Regions from separate parts of the Homo sapiens genome. Here all the other regions are reported to be linked to region 4. Evidence: microRNA targets listed by miRTarBase, many of them from high-throughput screens and not tested one by one. Region 4 holds a microRNA gene; each other region holds the end of a gene's coding sequence.
What was found. The annotated mature microRNA hsa-miR-548h-5p reads AAAAGUAAUCGCGGUUUUUGUC and lies in region 4 at 2,492-2,513, opposite strand. An mRNA with a match to its seed (bases 2 to 7 or 8) in the 3' UTR can be bound and repressed. Matches are read on the target gene's strand: a 7mer-m8 pairs with bases 2 to 8, a 7mer-A1 pairs with bases 2 to 7 and ends in A, and an 8mer does both.

Region 1 (5,294 bases), not on the chromosome of region 4:
GGCAGGCAAAGGGCAGGGGAAGGGAGGGAAAGGAAGAGAAAGAAAGGGAAAGGAAGGGAAGAAAAGGAAAATAGAAGGGACTAGCTCCAGGAGTGCCCCAAAGGAAGTCTATTTCCTCTTGCTGGATGTATAGTGCAAATAGTTTGCTACCTTCAGTTATTTTCATATTAAAAATCTGCTTTCTTGGCTGGGTGTGGTGGCTCATGCCTGTAATCCCAGCACTTTGGGAGGCCAAGGTGGGCAGATCACCTGAAGTCAGGAGTTCAAGACCAGCCTGGACAACATGGTGAAACCGTCTCTACTAAAAATACAAAAATTAGCCAGGCGTGGGTGGCATGTGCCTATAATCTCAGCTACTCAGGAGGCTGAGGCAGGAAAATCACTTAAACTTGGGAGGTGGAGGTTGCAGTGAGCCAAGATCGCACCACTACACTCCAACCTGGGCGACAGTGAGACTCTGTCTCCAAACAACAACAACAAAAAACAAACCTGCTTTCTCCTGCCTAACATCACTCACCAAAATAACCCATCACTTGAAATAGTGTTTCATAAAGGGAAAATGAGGAAATCAAAAGGAGATGGATTCCTAACACTAGTTACAGTTTTCTGTAGGAGTAATAAAAATGCTTACTCCTGATTTGGAAGGAAGGAAAGATGTGTTTATAATCCTGAAGACCTGGGAATGAGAAGAGAGTTTTTTTTGTTTTTTTTTTAAGACTGAGTTTTGCTCTTGTCGCCCAGGCTGGAGTGCAATGGCGCGATCTCGGCTCACCACAACCTCCGCCTCCCGGATTCAAGCGATTCTCCTGCCTCAGCCTCCTGAGTAGCTGGGATTACAGACATGTGCCACCATGCCCGGCTAATTTTGTGTTTTTAGTAGACACGAGGTTCCTCCATGTTGGTCAGGCTGGTCTTGAACTCCTGACCTCAGGTGATCCGCCCACCTTGGCATCCCAAAATGCTGGGATTACAGGCATGAGCCACAGGGCCCAGCTGAGAGTTCTCCTCTTCAAAACTTACCCTGGGTAGTTAAGGGGTGCCATACAGCACACAGAGACAAAGCCAGAGTTTCACCTTAATTACAGACAAGGGACAGTTTATAGGCATTCCAGCCATAATTTAGAAATAATCCATTTCTCCTGACAAGCTACCCAGGTCTCAAAATAACTTGTTGAAACAAAGAGGAATGATTCAGAAAGCAGAGTATTTTAGCAGTTGGAAGTGGAAAAAGAAGGCCTCTATTGCTAGGTTAGTGTAGAGAAAGGGTCTCTCTCTGACAACTACCTTTTCCTTCTCTTCACAGACCTTCCTAACTTCTCTCTCCCCACCCCTACCGCCCTCCTTCCAAGTCTCTGTACTACTCAAAGTGCATAAACTCGCAGGACAATGATACCTTTGACTACTGATTCGCCAATAGCAAAGCATATAAGTATCTGAAGTGACTTCATTTTACCAAAAGACACTGCCCCAGCTTTAACTTGACAAAGTACTTTGGGCTATTAAGAAGCAAACAAAAGGAAACCATACACTTGACGTTCTCCTGTAACTTTTCCAAGATAATCAAGGTTGCTACAGACTGGATTTTACATACGACAAAGTCATAGAAACTTCTGTGAAGAGCAATGTGGTCCAGATGAAAACAACCCTGAGGGATTTTTTGTTGTTGTTGTTGTTTTTGGTGAGTGGGAAAGGTGGCTTCTCTCACTGGGCTTTCTTTCTGGCCAGGCACATATACACAGACTGGACCAAAGAAGCTTCATACTCAAATGGGCAAGACCAAACCCCATTCAAGGGCCTAATGTTGTTTGTGACCATCCAAACCCCTTCAATTGGCACCTGCACACCTGGAGGATGGCTTTCATTTGGCACTTAAAAATACTTAAGAACACTCTTGTGAAAATATCCATATTATGATCTAATAAATGGTAATAAGCTGGCTGCTCTCTAAGATGACAGGCAAATACAGAATGAGCTTTCAGGATCTGTGCAACTGACCCACGGTCAACAGTATGTAGTTAATAGCAAGCCAATAATTGATGGAAGGCTGGGTATGGTGGCTGTCTCTAGTCCCAGCACTTTGGGAGGCTGAGACAAGAGGATCACTTGAGCCTAGGAGTTCAGGACCAGCTTGGGCAACATAGTGAGACTCCTGTCTCTAAAAAAAATTTAAAAATTAGCCAGGTGTGGTGGCATGTACCATAAGTCCCAGCAACTTGGGAGGTTGAGGTAGGGGGATTGTTCGAGCCTAGAAGGTTGAGGCTGCAGTGAGCTGTGCTGTCATGACTCCGACTGCACTCCAGCTTAGGCAAGAGAATGAGACCCTGTCCCTCTCTTAAAAAAAAAAAAAAAAAAAAAAAAAGATGAAGTCCCACTTGCCCATAATACTGAGAATACAGGGTGATTTTAGGCTTAAGCTAAATTCTAACTCCTTTCCCCACAACTGTTAACAGTTAAGCCTTTTCTGCAAAGTCAAGGATGCTAATAAGAGATGCTTGAAATGCTTATAAGAGAACTGTAAGAGGTTTTGGGTTTTATCACACAAGTTCCAAGGTGGAGGAGCAGTGACAGTGAGAGATAAGACAAGGTGAACAAGTTTAAAACCAAAAGCAGTGGACATTTATTCCTTAACTTTTGTGCAAGAGTGTAAAGATGCATTTGAAAGAACCTGATGGCTAGAGCATCAGCCATGGCTTTCAGGTTGGCCTAGTTTACAATTAGGAAAAGAAGGGGGGAAAAAAGGTAACTTGCCTAGTTCACATGAATGATGTTTCTGGCAAACACAGTTGTTTACAAGTTTCAAGCTATATTTTACTAGGGTCAAGGGAAGACTTCAAAAAGCCACATACAGTACAATTTAAAATTGTGTGAACATCCTGCAAATGTTAGTGCAAAGTAATTATGTAGACTCTCCAAACAAGACTGTGCTCTTGTTTCCCAGGTTTGGTCAATGTTGCTCTTTTATAATTACAATCACAGAAGCTTAACTTACCAAATAGCAATGCCTCTGTGTTTTATGTCCTATGTACCAAGGGAATGTCACAAGGTTTTGATGAAATGCAGCTTAGTTTCATTAATAAAGCAAATTTCTTATTGAATTTAACAATCAAGTTCCTGGAATGCTGCATGTGTTGTTTCATGGAAATGCTCTTAAGCTTATGCCTCTAACTTGTTCAATAAAATTACTCGTAAGATATCCTTTTTACAATGTAACTGGAATTGTTTCATGATCTTAAAATGCAACCAGTATAAATGAACATTTCAGAAGTGGGAGAAAATCCACCACTAATCTCAGCTAGACAAACTTCTTAAAAATGAAAAAGCCTATTCACACAAAATTATATGTAATGACTGTAGTAACCAGTTTATTACACAGATTAATCATTCTTGAAAGTACAAGCTCCAGAGGAGCAATTGGGTCTTTAAATATACACAAGTATTTCCATCAAATGAATTTTCACCCTTACATCCAAATAGACCTAAGCGGTTAAAAACATAAGAAAAATAAGAGCTATTAGCTATGTATTAACTGAGAAACCACATACAAACCAAAGAATATGGAAGAGAGAAAGAAGGGCTGAAAGGCCAAAGGTTGAAGGGGTAGGGAGATGTAAAAGAGTTGGGAACAAAGCCCATCACACTTGATGTACTAATAGCTCCAATCCATTTAAATGTTGACCAGTTAAACTTAGACCTTAAAATGCAGGATGTGGGTAGAGTTTAATCTGGTTGGTCATAACTTTCACCTAAGACGTAGCTCCTTCGGAATAAAATGAATACAGACACAGCTTCATGTTCTTCACCTTGCTTTTCATAACTGTTTTGAGTTTAAATGGATTCCACTTAAAAATAATCTCCTATAGGTGAGTGGAGCCTTTTCTTTCCCATCCAAGCACACACCATACCCACCACCCCCCTCACACCTTGCTGTTATCCAAATTTAAGTCAATAAGAAAAGCTTTTAGTCTCACACCTAGGTAATGCCTGTAGAACTGGCTTGTCACACACACACTTCTCTGCTAGGAGGCAATGTTGGTACAGAAGTACAGTATTTCTAGTTTGTTGTTCCAAGTATGTACAACACGCAGCACTGCTGTATCAGGTAAACATGTGCACAGGGGAAGATGAGGCGTGGGCTCATAGAAAGCAGTCAAATGGAAATCAAAAGGACTTTCTCTTTCAGAGTTCCCCTATCTTTATTTGTAGAGGTTATCCAATAATTTCTTTAATTACATCGCATACTTCTGAGTCCATTCCCGAGCTATTCTGTTGTACCTGTACACACAAAGAGAAGCTTGGCTTAACATAGGTGTGGAGTCAGTAAGCAACAGATTCCATTCATTATCCCATCAAGTAACTTGAAGAGAGTAGCTTATAGGACATTCAAGGAAAGGCCCCTTTCTATCCCAAATTTCTGATAAGGATTAATTCAATGATAATGGGAAGGAGCTGTAAAATGTGAAAGTCTCCTTTAATTGCTACTTATAGAGGGTTCTGATTAAATTTTAGTATTTGTTGGCATATACCTTATTCCATACTTGATTGGCCTATTTCTACAAAAGATGTCCACTCAATTCATTCATTTAAAGTACTTGAAATTATATGATTCTACATTACATAGTTCTTGAACTCATATACTAATAATGATTAAACCGACAGAAGGCTGGGCATGTTGGCTCACACCTGTAATCCCAGCACTTTGGGAGGCTGAGTCGGGTGGATCACTTGAGCCCAGGCGTTTCACACCAGCCTGGGCAACATGATAAAACCCTGTCTCTACAAAAAAATACAAAAATTAGCAGGGTGTGGTGGCGCATGACTATAGTCCCAGCTACTCAGGAGGCTGAGGTGGGAAGATCGTTTGAGCTCAGGAGGCAGAGGTTGCAGTGAGCTGAGATTGCAATACTGTACCATAGCCTGGGTGACAGAGTGAGGCTCTGTCTCAAAAAAAAAGGGGGAAAAAAAACCAAACTTTCCTTTCATATCAATAAAACAATTGGTTCTGGTAGAACTAATTTCAACAATTTGGTTGACAAAATGAATGGGTTTATTGCTTCAGAAGAACATTTGAATAAAGTAAGCAGAGCAAATGATTCTATAATTCTCCTATTAAAAAACGGGTGCTAGGCCGGGTGTGGTGGCTCACGCCTGTAATCCCAGCACTTTGGGAGGCTGGAGCAGCTGGATCACTTGAGGTCAGGAGTTCCAGACCAGCCTGGCCAACATGGCAAAATCCCGTCTCTACTGAAAACACAAAAATTAGCCAGGCATGGTGATGTGCGCCTGTAATCCCAGCT
Region 2 (5,294 bases), not on the chromosome of region 4:
AGCTCTGAGAATTGTTCTTCTGACTCCCCATTCTATGCCCAGCCTCCTTTCCTCCAAGATAGTAATTCATTTTACTCATTTAATGAGTTAAGACCATTTAACACAAACTCTTTCAACTTTCCATGTCACTTTTTCTTCTGAGGTTAATCATTCCATCAGTATCCTGTTTAGTAATACATTGCACCATTATGTTTCCTCAGGAACAGAGCTAGAAAGTTAACCCAAGGTAACCACTTAGGGCCATGCTTCTCATAAGCAATCTGGTCTAGTAATACATTGCACCATTATGTAATACACTGACTCATGGTCAACTTGGGTTAACATTGTAGCTCTGTTCCTGAGGAAACACAATGGTGCAATGTATTACTAGACAAGACTGCTTATGAGAAACATGGCCCTTATGTGATAAATTACACCTAGACTGGGAGAAACAATGAATACCTGATGGGAAGACATGGCCTTGTGTTTCTCTGAATACAATGACTTGTAAATGCGGCATGCTCCTTGCAGGGACCTAGAAACTATGTCCATGAAGCTATTACAAGAGTTAGTGGCTCTTGTTGTACATGAAGCTTCTAAGTTGGGGTAGCTCTTGCACTTACCTAAGTCTTATCTCTTGCATCTGAGCTACTGTGTGTTTCCGTGTGTTCGGAGGATAATTCTTGGATGGCTGTGTGAACTGCCATGAGGAATACTCCCGTGGAAGAGAAACACTTGATGATGCTGGGCTGGCAAGCTGTTTTCTGTGTCCCCTGTGCTTTTGATTAAATTGGTGCCAAGTAAGACCTCTTCAGGTCTTGTGAATCCAAATATTTGATTGAGTCTAAAAAGGTCCCTTTGACAAGAATTAGAGGTCCATTATTTAGCACAGCTATTCATATTATGGGGCTCCCCTTCAAGGTCTTTGAGGTTAAAACCTTGTCTTTTTCATCTAGCAAAATTTTGGTATTGCTTTGTGATCTGGTGAATCACTTAGGCAATCTAAATTTTTATTTTTATTTTTACCATTAATAGAGATATAATTATTTCCTATCTCAAAGGGTTGCTGTGATGATAAATATGTAGAAATATTTCCTAGGCAGTAAAATGCTATGTCTAAGTGGCAATACTAGTATCATTATGCTAACATATAAATTAATATTTCTTCCAAAAGTATCCTTAGGTTGGGTGCAGTGGTTTATGCCTGTAATCCCAACACTTTGGGAGGCCAAGGCAGGTGGATCACTTGAGTCCAGGATCTCAAGACCAGCCTGGGCAACATAAGGAGACCTCATCTCTACAAAAAATAATTTAAACAATTAGCTGGCCATGGTGGTGTGCACCTGTAATCCCAGCTACACAGGAGGCTAAGGTGGATCACCTGAGCCTGGGAGATTGAGGCTGCAGTGAGGCATGATTGCACCACTGCACTACAGCCTGGGTGATAGAGTGAGACTGTCTCAAAAAAAAAAAAAAAAAAAAAAAAAAAAAAAGAACATGAACATAAAAGTATCCTTACAAATATAGTAACATTAATCAATTTATGTATCAATCCTGATTTTCATTCCAACCTTCAAATGATTAGTTAAAACAATTTGATAAAGGAAGACCATCCTGATGTAAAGTTGACAATCATACTGAGAAAACTACCCTGTCCTCTCTCCCCCAACCCAGCCTGGTCTGCTTTTAGGACAGTACAAAATTATTTGCTCATCCCTTAAGTCCCTCTCTTGCTGAAAGTAAAACAGTTCACTACTACTTCTGTCCCAACAATGGGAGTTAAGACACATAACCTGTTTGAGCATTTAGTAAGTTGCTGGAAATATATTAAGCCAGAGAACTGGAAGGGAAGTGAGATCGTTGAACTCTTTTTATACTCCTGGGACCTCTTAAATCAAGCACTACAGGACAGAAATGGCCATTATCAAGAAATATTTTAGAAATTCTCAGGTATATAAATTTAGATTATAAATCTGGATTAGAGAATCGGAAATTGTATAATCTGTCTGGGAGGTTTCACCTTTATGTAGCAGTATAAAATATCACTTAATAAGCGGAAATCAAACCTGTTTTACTTGTGGTTGGGGAAAGGCCAATCAACCAACACTCTAAATCTCTAACACAAGGACAGTGGTTGTACCTAGGCCAAACCACAGAAACTTTCATTGCACATTTCACCTTCACAAAAAGGCTACTTTAGGCTCTTTTTCTGTGTATTATGGGACATAGACAAATGTTTCTTTGTATTTATTCCAGTTCTAGTCTTCCTTAAGCTTTTAATGATTCCAAACACTGCTCCCCTTCTTTTTGTTCTCATCACTCAACATCTAGAACCCAGATACTTTCTCACATTCCTTTCTCATATTTTCCTCTGTAAGCCCAACACCAGAAATGGTACTATATCTGAGAATCAAGGGAACTCATTCCCTTCAGATCTGCTCTAGAGTATTTAAAAAATAAATTAATAAATAAATAAAGCCAAAGATCCTCTATTTGTTAAAGAAATAAAACTATTTTAGCAGGACAGGCCAAATGAAAAACAGGACAATCAGATTACTTTTGGATCTATTTCTTTTTGTGTGAGATTATTTTAGCTTTATTTATTTTTTTTTTGAGACAGAGTCTCTGTCACCCAAGCTGGAGTGCAGTGGTGCAATCTCGGCTCACTCACTGCAACCTCTGTCTCCCTGGTTCAAGGGATCCTCCTGCCTCAGCCTCCTAAGTAGCTGGGATAGTACAAGCGTGTGCCACCATGCCCGGCTACTTTTTGTATTTTTAGTGGAGACAGGGTTTCACCATGCTGGTCAGGCTGGTCTTGAACTCCTGACCTCAAATAATCTGTCCACCTCAACCTCCCAAAGTGCTGGGATTATAGGCGTGAGCCACCGCACCCGGCCTATTTTAGCTTTAAAATTTGGTTGGTTTCACAGTGAAACATTAACTACAACTCTACTTAATTTTGTCAGGTACCCTAAAATTCTAATAATCTCTTGGTACAGTGATAACATTTCATTAACCAGATTATTCTATAGAAAAACTGAGCACATATGAGTATGTTCTAGGTAAAATTTTGTCTTGCATAAAACAACAAAAAAAATAGTTAAGGCCCTAATGTGCAAGTAGAGGCAGGAACAGGGGGATATTAAACCAATCATGAGCCTTCCAAAAAACTTTCAATCTTATGCTGTGTCAAGATATCACTGGCTGTTGGTAAAGTGCTAATAGCAGAATCAGAGAGTGCTCATGTACTTGCTGATTGAAAATACATGATTGACATGATTGGAAGTACACTCCAGCTTGGGTACAGAGTGAGACTGTCTCAAAAAAACAACAACAAAAAAGAGACAAGACTATCTTACACTTTTTTGTGGTTTTTCCCTTGCCCTTATAGCTTCCCTACAGTAGTGGGTAACTAGTATCCAACTGAAGGCTCTGAAAAGGGCACAAAGACCTCCTAGAAAGAGTACTTCATCTGATCAACACTAAGAAGTTCATCTGTCTGCTGCTGCTGCTGCGGACAAGCTTTATCACCAGAAAGTCATTTATAACGTTTGCGTCAATAGTAGGTACAAACCTTGGAGCTATAATTAAGATTCATTTAATTATGCTGGAAAAGTGAGGTAAAAGTGTTATTAGCTTCACAGCAAAATGTGTTGCGCACTACTTAAACTTTCTTCAAATTCTTTGTGTAGCAGCTATTGGTTTTTAAACTTAAAATGAAAAAATGCTTTGCAAGAAAATTCAATGTTCAAAGACAAAAAAAAAAAAAGCACTCAGGGAGAAAATATAACTAAAGGACATTTATTTATTTTTACCAAGACTTTATCTTGAGGACATGGCTAAACTGCATTTCCACCCCCCACCCCATCTTGAAGAAGGGTTAGTATGTGAATGTTATAAAGTAGATATGAACAGTTGAAGGACTGGAACCAACATTAAGTGACGAAGAACAACTTCCATCTAAATCATCATAAAAATGTTTAAGTAAAAAAAAAAAAAGAAAGAGAAAGAAAAAGAGGAGGTAACGGGGGTTTCCGATTGAACAAGATCCTCACATTTCATCTAATACAGTCAATCTTGGCTAGAGTATAACAAAGTGGAAACAGGATTACTATGATACAAAACTTCCACTACAGCACGCTGTACACACCTGTGTTCCAAGCCCACCCCAACCCCCCCAGTGCTTCCAACACAATTATTTCCCAGCCTGTTGGGCCTGCCGACGAAGGAGCACGTAGATCTTCTCTTTAATCCAGTCTTTGTTATAAGGCTGGTATGTCTGGGTATCAGCTCGGTAACTGAGGAGAGAAAGGGAATAAGCAAAGTCACAGTGGTCAATCACTGCCAGGTGTTTAAATCCCCAAATTATAACTGCCCAATGATGGCATAGATGTGCACATTTCCAAAAATGAACTTAATGAAAAGCTGAAAGAGCTACTTACACAGTCGTTGAATTTTAAGTGACATGAACTTTATATCACCTAGTACAATCTTATAGTGGAAAAAGAAAACATGACTTAGAATTTTTAAGTTAAATGCCCAATATGTTACATATCTACTTCTTGACAGAGTATGACCAGAAACCATGTGTTCTTCCTCCTACATAGTTTCTATTTTTATGGTTCCTTTAGTGATTAAAAAACAACAACAAAAAAATTGGCTGGGTGCAGTGGCTCATGCCTGTAATCCCAGCACTTTGGGAGGCTGAGGCGGGTGATCACTTGAGGTCAGGAGTTCAAGACTAGCCTGGCCAACATGGTGAAACCTTGTCTCTACTAAAATACAAAAATTAGCTGGGCATGGTGGTGCACGCCTGTAGTCCTGCCTACTCAGGAGGCTGAGGCAAGGGAATTGCTTCAACCGGTGGAGGATGCAGTGAGCCGAGATCGTGCCACTGCACTCCTGTGAGTGAGACTCCATCTCAAAAAAACAAAAACAACAATACTAGAACAAACTTTAGATTTGCAATGTTTATTCTGAATTAACTAAAAAACCTTTAAAAAACATGTACTGGCAACAAAGATTTCTTGCTAATTTCCTTCCCCCTGTAAAGTATTAAGGAAATCTTAAACCTATATTTTAGGATTTGCTTTTTAAAATAAATAATGCTAGAGGCCTATGGAGAAGAATTATCAGAAGATACAGTAAGCTCCAAAATATCTCTAATCAGAACGAAAAGGAGTACACAGACTAGCATTAGCAGTAAAACTCCAATGGGACTGTGAGTAGTATCTAGTAAGATGTCACAGAGTACTGGGTGTCGCTTTAAATTCTTATCTGAATTAACTCATTTTTACAACCCTGTGAGTAGGTAC
Region 3 (5,233 bases), not on the chromosome of region 4:
CAGAGGAGGTGCAGAGTAGGGTTGGTACTCAGTTTGCCCAGCTCCCCACCAGAGGCTCTGCCACCTCCACTCTGTGGTGGCCTGTGGGCCACGTCATCAGGGCCACCTTCTCAGTCAGGTCTCCTGGGGCCGATAGGTCCAACTGAACAGGACTTCCACCAAGGGGCTGGGGGGTGGACCACGCCAGGGCCTACTTCTTCATGAGCACATGACGGAGCGTGTGTGTGATCCTCAGTCATTCACTGAGCGCCCCCTTGTCTGGGCTCTGGGGCGCAGCAGGAAGCAAAGTGAGGGGCTGAAGTTCCGCTCAGGGATAGGTGAAGTGCCTCTGGTTGCTGGAACCTGAGACCTGGCTTTGTGACCGTCAGCACAGCCCACGTATATACACCCTTGCCTTTTCTCCAGGATTCTCGAGAGCCAGACGCCGGCCGGATTCACGCTGGGAGCAAAACTGCCAAGTATTTGGCCGCCGACGCATTAGAGCTTATGGTGCCTGGTGGCTGGAGGCCTGGGACTGGGTCCCAGCAGCCAGAACCCCCTGCAGAGGGCGGGCATCCTGGCGCGGCCCAGAGAGGCCAGGGGGACCTTCAGTGCCCTCACTGCCTGCAGTGCTTCAGTGACGAGCAAGGGGAAGAGCTCCTCAGGCATGTGGCTGAGTGCTGCCAGTGACCGAGACTCACCCGTGCCCTTGCGGCCTCCTGGCCCGGTGCAGCTGCCCTCAGGGACAGGGTGGGTGCTCTCAGATGCCATGGGTTGAGCTCTACTGAGAGCCAAGGCCCCTAGAATAGTTGCGGGGCACTCTGATCGTTCACTTTGGTCCCTTTGGCTATGGAACAGGCTGGGTCACAGGGAACTGCCAGTGAGGCTGGAGGCTGGAGGTGGAGATGGGGTCAGGAACATCTGGCAGAGGGAGGTCCCAGTCTGTGTCTCCATCAGGCTTAAGCCAGAGCTATCTGGTGCTGGTGTGCCAGCCCCTCCCCCAGCCTGCCTAGAAAGGGGTGGCTGCCTGAGGGAGTCACTTGTATGGTCCCCAGGGTGGGAGCCCCATCCTGTTCTATGGAATAAAGCGTCGCCTCTCTGCCTCGAACCAGTCAAATGGAGTATTGCGGCTGCACGTCACACTAGGGTGGCCACCCCCGCCATTGCGAGCCACATGTCTGCACTGAGAAACTGCATTTCAGTAGCATTTGTCATCCAGCCGGAAGTTAAAGCACACTTACTTTATTCACCTATTTTTATAATAAACGTTCTTGCTGCTGTGACTGCTCTGAGAATTTGTGTTGGAAGCTGGGGTGCAGGGACTGAACAGTATTTACAGCAGCTGGCATGGGAAAACACTCCTGCTGTTGCCTTCTGCCAGGGCACCAAGACAAGGGGGTCAGTGGGAGCCTGGCTGTATTAGGGTTCTCTAGAGGGACAGAACTAATGGAACAGATAGATATATAAAGGGGAGTGTGTCAAGTATTAACTCACACGATCACAAGTTCCCACAATAGGCCGTCTGCAGGCTGAGGAACAAGGAGAGCCAGTCCCGAGTTCCGAAACTGAAGAACTTGGGAGTCCTATGTTCAAGGGCAGGAAGCATCCAGCACGGAGCAAGATGTAGGCTGGGAGGCCAGGCCAGTCTCTCTTTTCACGTTTTTCTGCCTGCTTTATTCTGGCCACGCTGGCAGCTGATTAGATGGTGCCCACCCCGATTGAGGGTGGATCTGCCTTCCCCAGCCCACTGACTCAAATGTTAATCTCCTTGGCAACACCCTCACAGACACACCCAGATCAATACTTCCTATCCTTCAATCAAGTTGACACTCAGTATTAACCATCATGAGTCCACCCCTTGTCTACTTGAACCCATACATAGTCCTGAGATAATAATCTTCAAATAAAGACAAAAATAAAGTCACAATTATGCCTAACATAATACAACTATCCTTCATACAACCGGAAACGCACCAGTCCCCAACCCAAATAATACTATTACATAAAGGTAACAATACTTTACTTTTTGTTTTTTGAAACGGAGTTTCTTGTTCCCCAGGCTGGAGTGCAGTGGTGTGATCTCGGCTCAGCTCACTGCTACCTCCGCCTCCCAGGTTCAAGTGATTCTCCCACCTCAGGCTCCCGATTAGCTAGGATTACAGGCGCCTGCCACCACGCCCGGCTAATTTTTGTATTTTTAGTAGAGAAGGGGTTTCGCCACGTTGGCCTGGCTGGTTTCGAACTCCTGACGTCAGGTGATCAGCCTGCCTCTGCCTCCCAGCGTGCTGGGATTACAGGCATGAGCCACCACACCCGGCCAAGGTGACTGACGGTACTTAAATGCTGATGTGAAGTCAATAAATCTTATGTCACACGATAAAGGAGAAAGGAAATGAAGAGATTTTCTTAGTACTAGCGTATACATGCACAAACGTTTTTTATCAAAAGGAGGAAATACTCACAGCAATTACAGTCCTGGTTCCTGCAGCTGGTCATGTGGTCATAGCCGTTATTGATGCCTACCTTCTTCTACTACCCATTCTGTATTCCCTTTGCCTTCAGCAAGCACCTCAGCAGATGGTGGTTTTTTTCCTGGTGGAGTGACCCGAACCTTCATTCCTGATTTGTAGTCCTGCCTGGATTGGGCTGTTGTAGTTTCCCATTGACCTTAATCACAGGGCATTAGATAATACTAAGAGATGTCCTAATGGATCTCCTGTATTCCATGCATACTCTTCCTTACCTCTGTTGTGGAGTAAGAGACTAATTCCATCTTTTTTTTTTTTTTGAGATGGAGTGTCGCTCTGTCGCCCAGGCTGGAGTGCAGTGGTGCAATCTCGGCTCTCTGCAGGCTCCGCCTCACGGGTTCACACCATTCTCCTGCCTCAGCCTCCCGAGTAGCTGGGACTACAGGCACTTGCCACCATGCCCAGCTAATGTTTTGTATTTTGTGTAGTAGAGACGGGGTTTCACCGTGTTAGCCAGGATGGTCTCAATCTCCTGACCTCATGATCCGCCCGCCTTGGCCTCCCAAAATGCTGGGATTACAGGCGTGAGCCACCACACCCGGCCGAGACTGATTCCATCTTGATAGTCCAGATCAATCACTCCAGCCAACACCATAACTCCTCCTTAGCCTGTTGACTTAAAGGTAGGAGGAGCCCAGAGTGTCCAGGTGGCAATCTTAACTTCTAGCTTAATGGAATAGTTGTGTCTCCTGGTGGCAGCGTTCCTCCCTCTGGAACTAAGACCTCTAGGCCAGCAGAACATAATGTCATGGGAACAGGGAGCAAACATTTTGCTAGTGGATCACTAGGGGTGATGGCGAGTGGTGCCACTTCCACTTGAGTGCCTTGATTCCTGGACCCGTGCATCCTGGTTAAGGGAGAAACAATATCATATCTTGGATGCTGATTCAGAGCATACATGGCCTTCTGGAGAACTTGGTCCCAGCCCTGCAAAGTATTGTCACCTAGTTGGTGTTGTAATTGTGACTTCAGAAGGCCATTCCACCGTTCTATCAATCCAGCTGCTTCAGGATGATGGGGAACGTGGTAAGATCAGTGAATTCCATGAGCATGAGCCCACTGCCACACTTCTTTAGCTGTAAAGTGAGTGCCTTGCTCAGAGGCAATGCTGTGTGGAACACCCTGATGGTGGATGAGGCATTCCTTGAGTCCATGGATGGTAGTCTTGGCAGAAGCACTGCGTGCAAGATAGGCAAACCCACATCAGGAGTAAGTGTCTATTCCGGTGAGGACAAACCTCTGCCCTTTCCATGATGGAAGAGGTCCAATATAATCAACCTGCCACCAGGTAGCTGGCTGATCACCCTGAAGAATGGTGCCATATTGAGGCTCAGTGTTAGTCTCTGCTGCTGCCAAATTGGGCACTCAGCAGTGGCTGTAGACAAGTCAGCCTTGGCTAGTGGAGGTCCATGTTGCTGAATCTCCATGTGTAATCTCCATCCCTGCCACCATGGCCACTCTGTTCATGGGCCCATTGGGCGATGGCAGGTGGCTGGGGAAAGAGGCTGAGTGGTGTCCACAGAACAGGTCATCCTACCCACTTGATTATTAAAATTCTCCTCTGTTGAGGTCATCCGCTGGTGAGCACTCACAGGGGATACAAATATCTTCAGTTTTTGACCACTTGGAGAGGTCCATCCACATACCTCTTCCTCAAATTTGTCACCAATTTTCCAATAATGCTTCTTTCAAGCCCCTGACCATTGTCTTCCAAGTCCCATCCAGGCAAACCATTGTCTACAGCCCATGAATCAGTACATAATCACACACCTGGCCATTTCTCCTCCCATGCAAAGTGCACAACCAGGTGCACCGCTCCAACTTCTGCCCACTGGGAAGATTTCCCTTCACTGCTGTCCTTCAGGCATGTCCTAAAAAGAGGCTGTATTGCTGCAGCTGTCCACTTTTGGGTGGTGCCTTCATATCGTGCAGAAGCATCTGTGAGCCAGGCCCTAGTCTTCTCTTCCTCTGTCCACTGATCATAGGGAACTCCTCATGAGGCCATTGGTGCAGGCTGGGGGAGAGGAGGCAGGGTGGCAGGAGTGGAGACCATGGGCATTTGAGCTACTTCTTCATGTAACTTGCTTGTGCCTTCAGGACCTGCTTGAGCTCAATCACATATGTGCCACTTCTCTTTGATGATGGAATGCTGCTGTGCACGACCTACTTTATGGTGATGGGTCAGAAAGCACCCAGTTTATGATGGGCAGTTCAGGTCATATGGTGACTTGATGACCCATAGTCAAACATTCAGTTTCCACCAAAGCCCAGTAACAGGCCAAGAGCTGTCTCTCAAAAGGAGAGTAGTTAGCTGCAGAAGATGGCAGGGCCATCTTCTCCAGATCCTACAGGCCTCCGCTGTGATTCACCTATGGGGTGAAAATCCTACAGGCCTCCACTGTGATTCACCTATGGGGGCCTGCCAAAGGCTCCAAACAGCATCCCTATCTGCTACTGACGCCTCAAGCACCATTGGATCGCTGGGTCATATGGCCCAAGTGGCAGAGCAGCTTGCACAGCAGCCTGGACCTGTTGCAGAGCCTTCTCCTGTTCTGGACCCCACTCAAAACTGGCAGCCTTTTAGGTCACTAGATAAATGGGCTGGAGTAACACATCTAAGTGAGGAATGTGTTGCCTCCAAAATCCAAATAGACCCACTAAGCATTGTGGATCTTCTTGGTTGTAGGAGGGACCAAATGAGGCGACTTATCCTTCACCTTGGAAGG
Region 4 (5,294 bases):
TGTCTCAAAAAAAAAGGATCATTTCAGTAGCTGGGAACAGAATAGAGCATAGGTGAACAAAAACAGAAAAAGTGGGGCTGAGTTAGGAGAACATACGTCAGCTTCCTCTGGGTAGCTGTGGAGGTGATGAGAAGCAGTTCAACTTGAGCTGTATTTTTCAAGGAAATGTCAACAGGACTTGCTGAGGACTTAGATGTGGGTTAGAAAATAAGAAAGATAGCACAGATGACTCCAAAGTTTTTGGCCTGAGCAGCTGGAAGAATGGTGTAACTGTTCAATAATAGGAAGCCAAGTGAAGCAGAAATAGATTGGGGAAAGGATTGGAATAGAATAAAGAATTCTAGGGCAGCACAATGGCTCATGCCTGTAATCCCAGCACTTTGGGAGATTGAGGAGGGCAGATGGCTTGAGGAGTCCGAGACTAGCCTGCTCAACATGGCAAGACTCCATCTCTACTAAAAATACAATAGTTAGCCGGGCATGGTGGTGCACACCTGTAATCCCAGCTGCTGAAGTGGCTGAGGCAAGAGAATCGCGTGAGCCCGGGAAGTGGACGCTGCAGTGACCCGAGATTGCGCCACTGCACTCCAGCCTAGATGACAGAGTAAGACCCTGTATCAAAAAAAAAGAAGAAAAAAAAAAGGAGTTCTGTTTTTGATATGTTAAGTTTGAGATGTCTATTGTGTCCAAGTGGAGATGTTCAGGGTGAAATTGTATGGATTGTGTTTTTCATAGCATAGGGATTCTAGAGGACTTAATAGTAAAAGAAGCAGTAGGAAGATCTCAGAGGAGAGGATGAGACTAGAAGGATTCAGTTGGTCAGTGCAACTTATGTCTCACGTTGTGTCTGAGGATGACAAGAGGTGATGCATTGTGGGTAAAGCTGACTATATGGTTATTAAAAGAAAAAAAAAAGTCCAAGAAGTCCTAGTAAATGGAAAAATTTAGGTCTCCCTGGATGAAGTCAGCCATAGCCTGGGTTGATTGTTCTGCTGAAGAGAGCTTAGTCAGGTGGAGAGTGTGGTAAAGGGATAGCCATTACCCCCAAGGCTTCAATACAAGTGGAAAATGCAACAGCTTTAATCCTAAGATTCTTCCTAGATTCACAATATGTGTGTGCCCTGGTCCCAACCCCTCCCTACTCCCCTCATTTGCCCCCAGGCTTCGTGAAAGTGATAGCAGAATCAGCCATGCTGATTCCTCAGCCCAGTGCACTGGATGGAAGTTAATGCCCAAAACTGATTTATCTTCCTTGAGGCTGGGAAAAGGGATGAGTTGGGAAAGCGAACAACTAGAGGTGTTTATGAAGGAGGAACATCTGGGATGCCCGTGGTGGTAACGTGGAGTGCTGCAAAGAGGACTATAGAGAAGGAAGGCAAAATGCTGTTTAGAATCCACAAACGTGGAATCAGTGCATCTCATTTGCTGGCTCTTACCATAAAATGAGCATCAGTATCCCTGCCCTGAGCTTGGGTAGCTTATCAGAGAAGATCGCTGACACTTTTGGAGCCCATCTGAATAGCTCCCTCTGAAGCCATCCAACTTGACCATGATCTGGACTTCCTACTAGACCAGTATTTTGCCTTTGCCTGATCTTTCAACTTCAGCTTCTGCATTTTCTTCTAATTAGCCCTTTCTTACCCCACCAGCACTGCCAAAATGGAGACTTCCTGTCCCAGTCTCAGACCTTGTGGAATTCACACCTCCCCTTTCCATCACCACCTCCCAACCCTGCCACAATATGGACTACCTGTTGTTACGTTGAGAAGATTAAGACTACACAGGCAGTTAGTTTAGGGAACACCTTCTACAGTTGGTGAAATCTATTTTTAAGATCATGAAATGTCATACTACTGCCATATATACTAATTTCCTCCTCCTCCTTTCTCTAAAACTGTCACTCAAGATAAAAGTCAGCTGGGCCGGGCAGGGTGGCTTACGCCTATAACCCCAGGATCTGGGGAGGCCAAGGCTGGCGGATCACCTGAGGTCAGGAGTTTGAGACCAGCCTGGCCAACATGGCAAAACCCCATCTCTACTAAAAATACAAAAATTAGTCAGGCATGGTGGTGCACACCTGTAGTCCCAGCTACTCGAGAGGCTGAGGCTGGAGAATCGCTTGAACCTGGGAGGTGGAGGTTGCAGTGAGCCAAGATCACGCCATTGCACTGTAGCCTGGGCGACAAGAGTGAAACTCCATCTCAAAAAAAAAAAAGGGCAACTGGTGAATGCTGGGAATATGAATATCAGGGCTTGTGCTTGTTATTTTGGGGAATGACAGAAGACAGACCCAGGCAGTGTTTTTTCCCTGCATTCATCCTTTTTTCCTTTTTCTTTATTTCCCATTTATTTTATTTAAGTGTGATTTAGTTTGTACAACATTTATAAGAGGAATGGAAAATAGACAAGAAGTGATGATAGCAAGTATTAGGTTGGTGCAAAAGTAATTGCGGTTTTTGTCATTAATGAAACGTAAAGTAATTAAAGTAATGACAAAAACCGCGATTACTTTTGCACCAACCTAATAGCTTTGGAAATGGAACAACGAAGGATCACAAGTTTGGCTTCAAGTTTTCTGTGGTACACTTGCCACAAAAAGCAGGGGGCAGAGGAAACTTTTGGAGGCGATGGATATGTTTATCATTTTGATTGTGATGATATCATGGGTGTATATGTATACCCAAGCTCATCAAATTGTACACATGAAATACATGTGGGGTTTTTCTGTCTATCAATTTATACTTTGATAAAGCTATTAAAAAGAAAAAGGCAGAAATGAGCTCAAATTTTAAACTGTCTTTATTCTTTCATTGAACAAGCATTTATGAAGGGCCCGCCATGTGCCAGCTCTGTGCGAGATATTGATGTGACTCTGGGAAGGCAAGCATTGTCCCCAACCCTGCACATCTATCAGGGAAAGCAGAAGCAATTGCCATCACGTGCTAGGACAGGGAAGTTTGGCACCATGGAAACGTGTAGCAGGGGCAATCCTGGTGTGGGGGTGGGTCAGGATTGTAATTCCCAAATTGGAGACTGACTCACACAGCTATCAGTGACAGGCAGAACAACCTCCACAGACTTCAGCCAGAGGGGGGAATTAGCCATTTTCTTTTATATCACCGTTTTATTCACACATCAGCATCCCCTCATTCCCATCCACTTATTCCTGAAAGCAGGCCCTTTTTGAGGCTCCAAACATAGTAATTAAACAAAGGGGATTCTAGAAGGTGGACAAAGCATTAGAGACAGCTTCATTGTATATAAATGCCAAATTTTCTGCATCAGTAAGGTTGCAGCTGTGACAAGAATTAGGCTGCTTTCTAGGTCATATATTTTCTAAAGCACTAGGCAAAAAAAATATTAACACATGAGGGGAAAAGAAATAAATAGACTCAATTGTTTTAAAACCTTATGAGTAGACCATTTTTTAATAATACAATGAATACTGCTTATTGAATAAACAAAGAAATTATTTGTTAATATAAAATAGAGCCACATTCTCTGGTTAAATCGTGAATGTGTAAAAAATTAAGTTCTCAATTTAATCTGTTCTGCACAAGATTCTGAATGAAAGATTAATTGGATATAATGACACTGATATTATTTTCTGTATAATAATAATTCTATACATGTTTGGCAATTTATAGTTGTAATTCTATGAATCTGAATTTTTAAAAGTTAACTACAAATAAACAGTCTCTGTAAATGAGATATATGGGGTAGGAGACTGCTTACATGGGTATGGCTAAAGCATAAATTTGAAATAATATCTGATTCATATCAGAATTTATCAGCCTGGGCTGGATAATGTTTAGTCACAGATGAGACACAGATAAGAAAATTAACACCAGATTGGTAATTAAAAGTGCTTCCTGGGTATGAATGACACCTCTGAATGCAGCATGAAATAATTCCTTTTGTATTCTGCTCCACGTTTTCTTTCATCTTGTGTTTGGACATTAGCCACAGAGGGATTGATGTTTACCGCAAAGAGCCTGGAGTCAGAAGATCTATATTCTGGTCTCAATGCTGCTAGAAGTTAACTGTTAGATTTTTAGAAAAAATAAGTTCTAATCCTCTGTTCAGCTTGCACATCTGCAAAATGAAGATACTTTTTAAAGCAAAATTGAGAAAGAAATAGAACAAAATTATGCATGCAAAAATGCGGTGAAAATTTTTAGTTAATGCAAATATAAAATATCCAAATAGTCTATGCACAAATATATTTATATATCATAACAATGGAAACTAAATTATAATTGAAGGGATATCAAAAATAGAATTATAGTATTGAAACAAATAAAAGCCAACAAGATTGAATATGTGTGTTTGTGCACGTATGTTTTAAGTGGTGAGATACTTCTAGATATTATGTTGTTAACATATTACCAAATTGTTTAACTCATATATGCGTATAGTTTTTGGTAATATGAAACTGTGCATAGAAGGAGATGATCAGTAATTTATTTGGCTGTCTAGTACATGTTGAGTCACTTCTCCATATAAAAAATTAATAAAGAAGGCTAATAAATGGGCTCCTCACGTGAGGGCTAAAGACAAAGACAGATGCAGACGCTTTGTTCCTGAAACCTCTAGCTTGGAATATGTTATAGTCCTGAGACAAAGCCATTCACAATTAATTCCAATGGTAAATCTCAGTTGAGCCTCGGGGGTGTGAAGGGGGACTGATACAGCATAGTCGGTTTGCCATAAATATGCCTAAATCTATAAAAGATTCATCACATTAAAAGAGGTTTTTTCTGAACACTATGCTCATTTATCAGATTATTTGGAGATTATTTAGTATGATAAAATACAGAAAATACCTCACTACATTTGTAAAATCTTTTCAGAAATCAATTTCTAAGTTTTTAACAAAAATGTCATGATAAGACTTCTAGTACTATAAGATGTCATAGACCTTCTGGTATAGGCACAGCAGTCTGAACAAACACCGAAATAAGAGGGGCACCTTAAAATCTCTAGTCAAACGGACTGGTAGAAACCTTCTATGCAATCTCAGTCTACTAAGAAGTAGGTTTCTACCTAATGTAAAAAAACCAATACTGAAAATCAAGGAAAAGAAAGAAATAGGAACAAAACAAACAAACAATAAGACAAACAAACAAAACAAACAGTAACAAGATAAATCTCCAAAAACATACTTGAATGAAGTGGAGTTTTGTGATTTACCTGACAGAAAATTCTAAATAATGGCCATAAGGTTACTCATAGATGTCAAGACAGCAATCCAAGAACAAGCTGAGAACTTCAACAAAGATACAGTATAAAAA

Region 1: the mRNA of UBE2D2 is a reported target of hsa-miR-548h-5p. Seed matches in the 3' UTR shown: 7mer-m8 at 2,890-2,896.
Region 2: miRTarBase lists ERH as a target of hsa-miR-548h-5p. Seed matches in the 3' UTR shown: 7mer-A1 at 3,877-3,883.
Region 3: the mRNA of TNIP2 is a reported target of hsa-miR-548h-5p. Seed matches in the 3' UTR shown: 8mer at 1,217-1,224.

The regions. Positions count from the first base shown.
Region 1 is chr5:139,625,734-139,631,027 of GRCh38, reverse strand. It overlaps UBE2D2 (ubiquitin conjugating enzyme E2 D2), which reads right to left. Exons shown (of 7, transcript NM_003339.3): 7 at 2,594-4,272. The coding sequence ends at 4,227. Among named protein-coding and RNA genes, the nearest start is that of CXXC5, 20 kb to the left of the region's middle.
Region 2 is chr14:69,376,364-69,381,657 of GRCh38, forward strand. ERH (ERH mRNA splicing and mitosis factor) reads right to left here. Exons shown (of 4, transcript NM_004450.3): 4 at 3,765-4,277. The coding sequence ends at 4,175. It also overlaps a transcript of GALNT16 not described here. Among named protein-coding and RNA genes, the nearest start is that of ERH, 19 kb to the right of the region's middle.
Region 3 is chr4:2,737,693-2,742,925 of GRCh38, reverse strand. TNIP2 (TNFAIP3 interacting protein 2) reads left to right here. Exons shown (of 6, transcript NM_024309.4): 6 at 406-1,278. The coding sequence ends at 669. Among named protein-coding and RNA genes, the nearest start is that of TNIP2, 16 kb to the left of the region's middle.
Region 4 is chr8:27,046,435-27,051,728 of GRCh38, forward strand. MIR548H4 (microRNA 548h-4) reads right to left here and starts at 2,529; the gene lies at 2,419-2,529.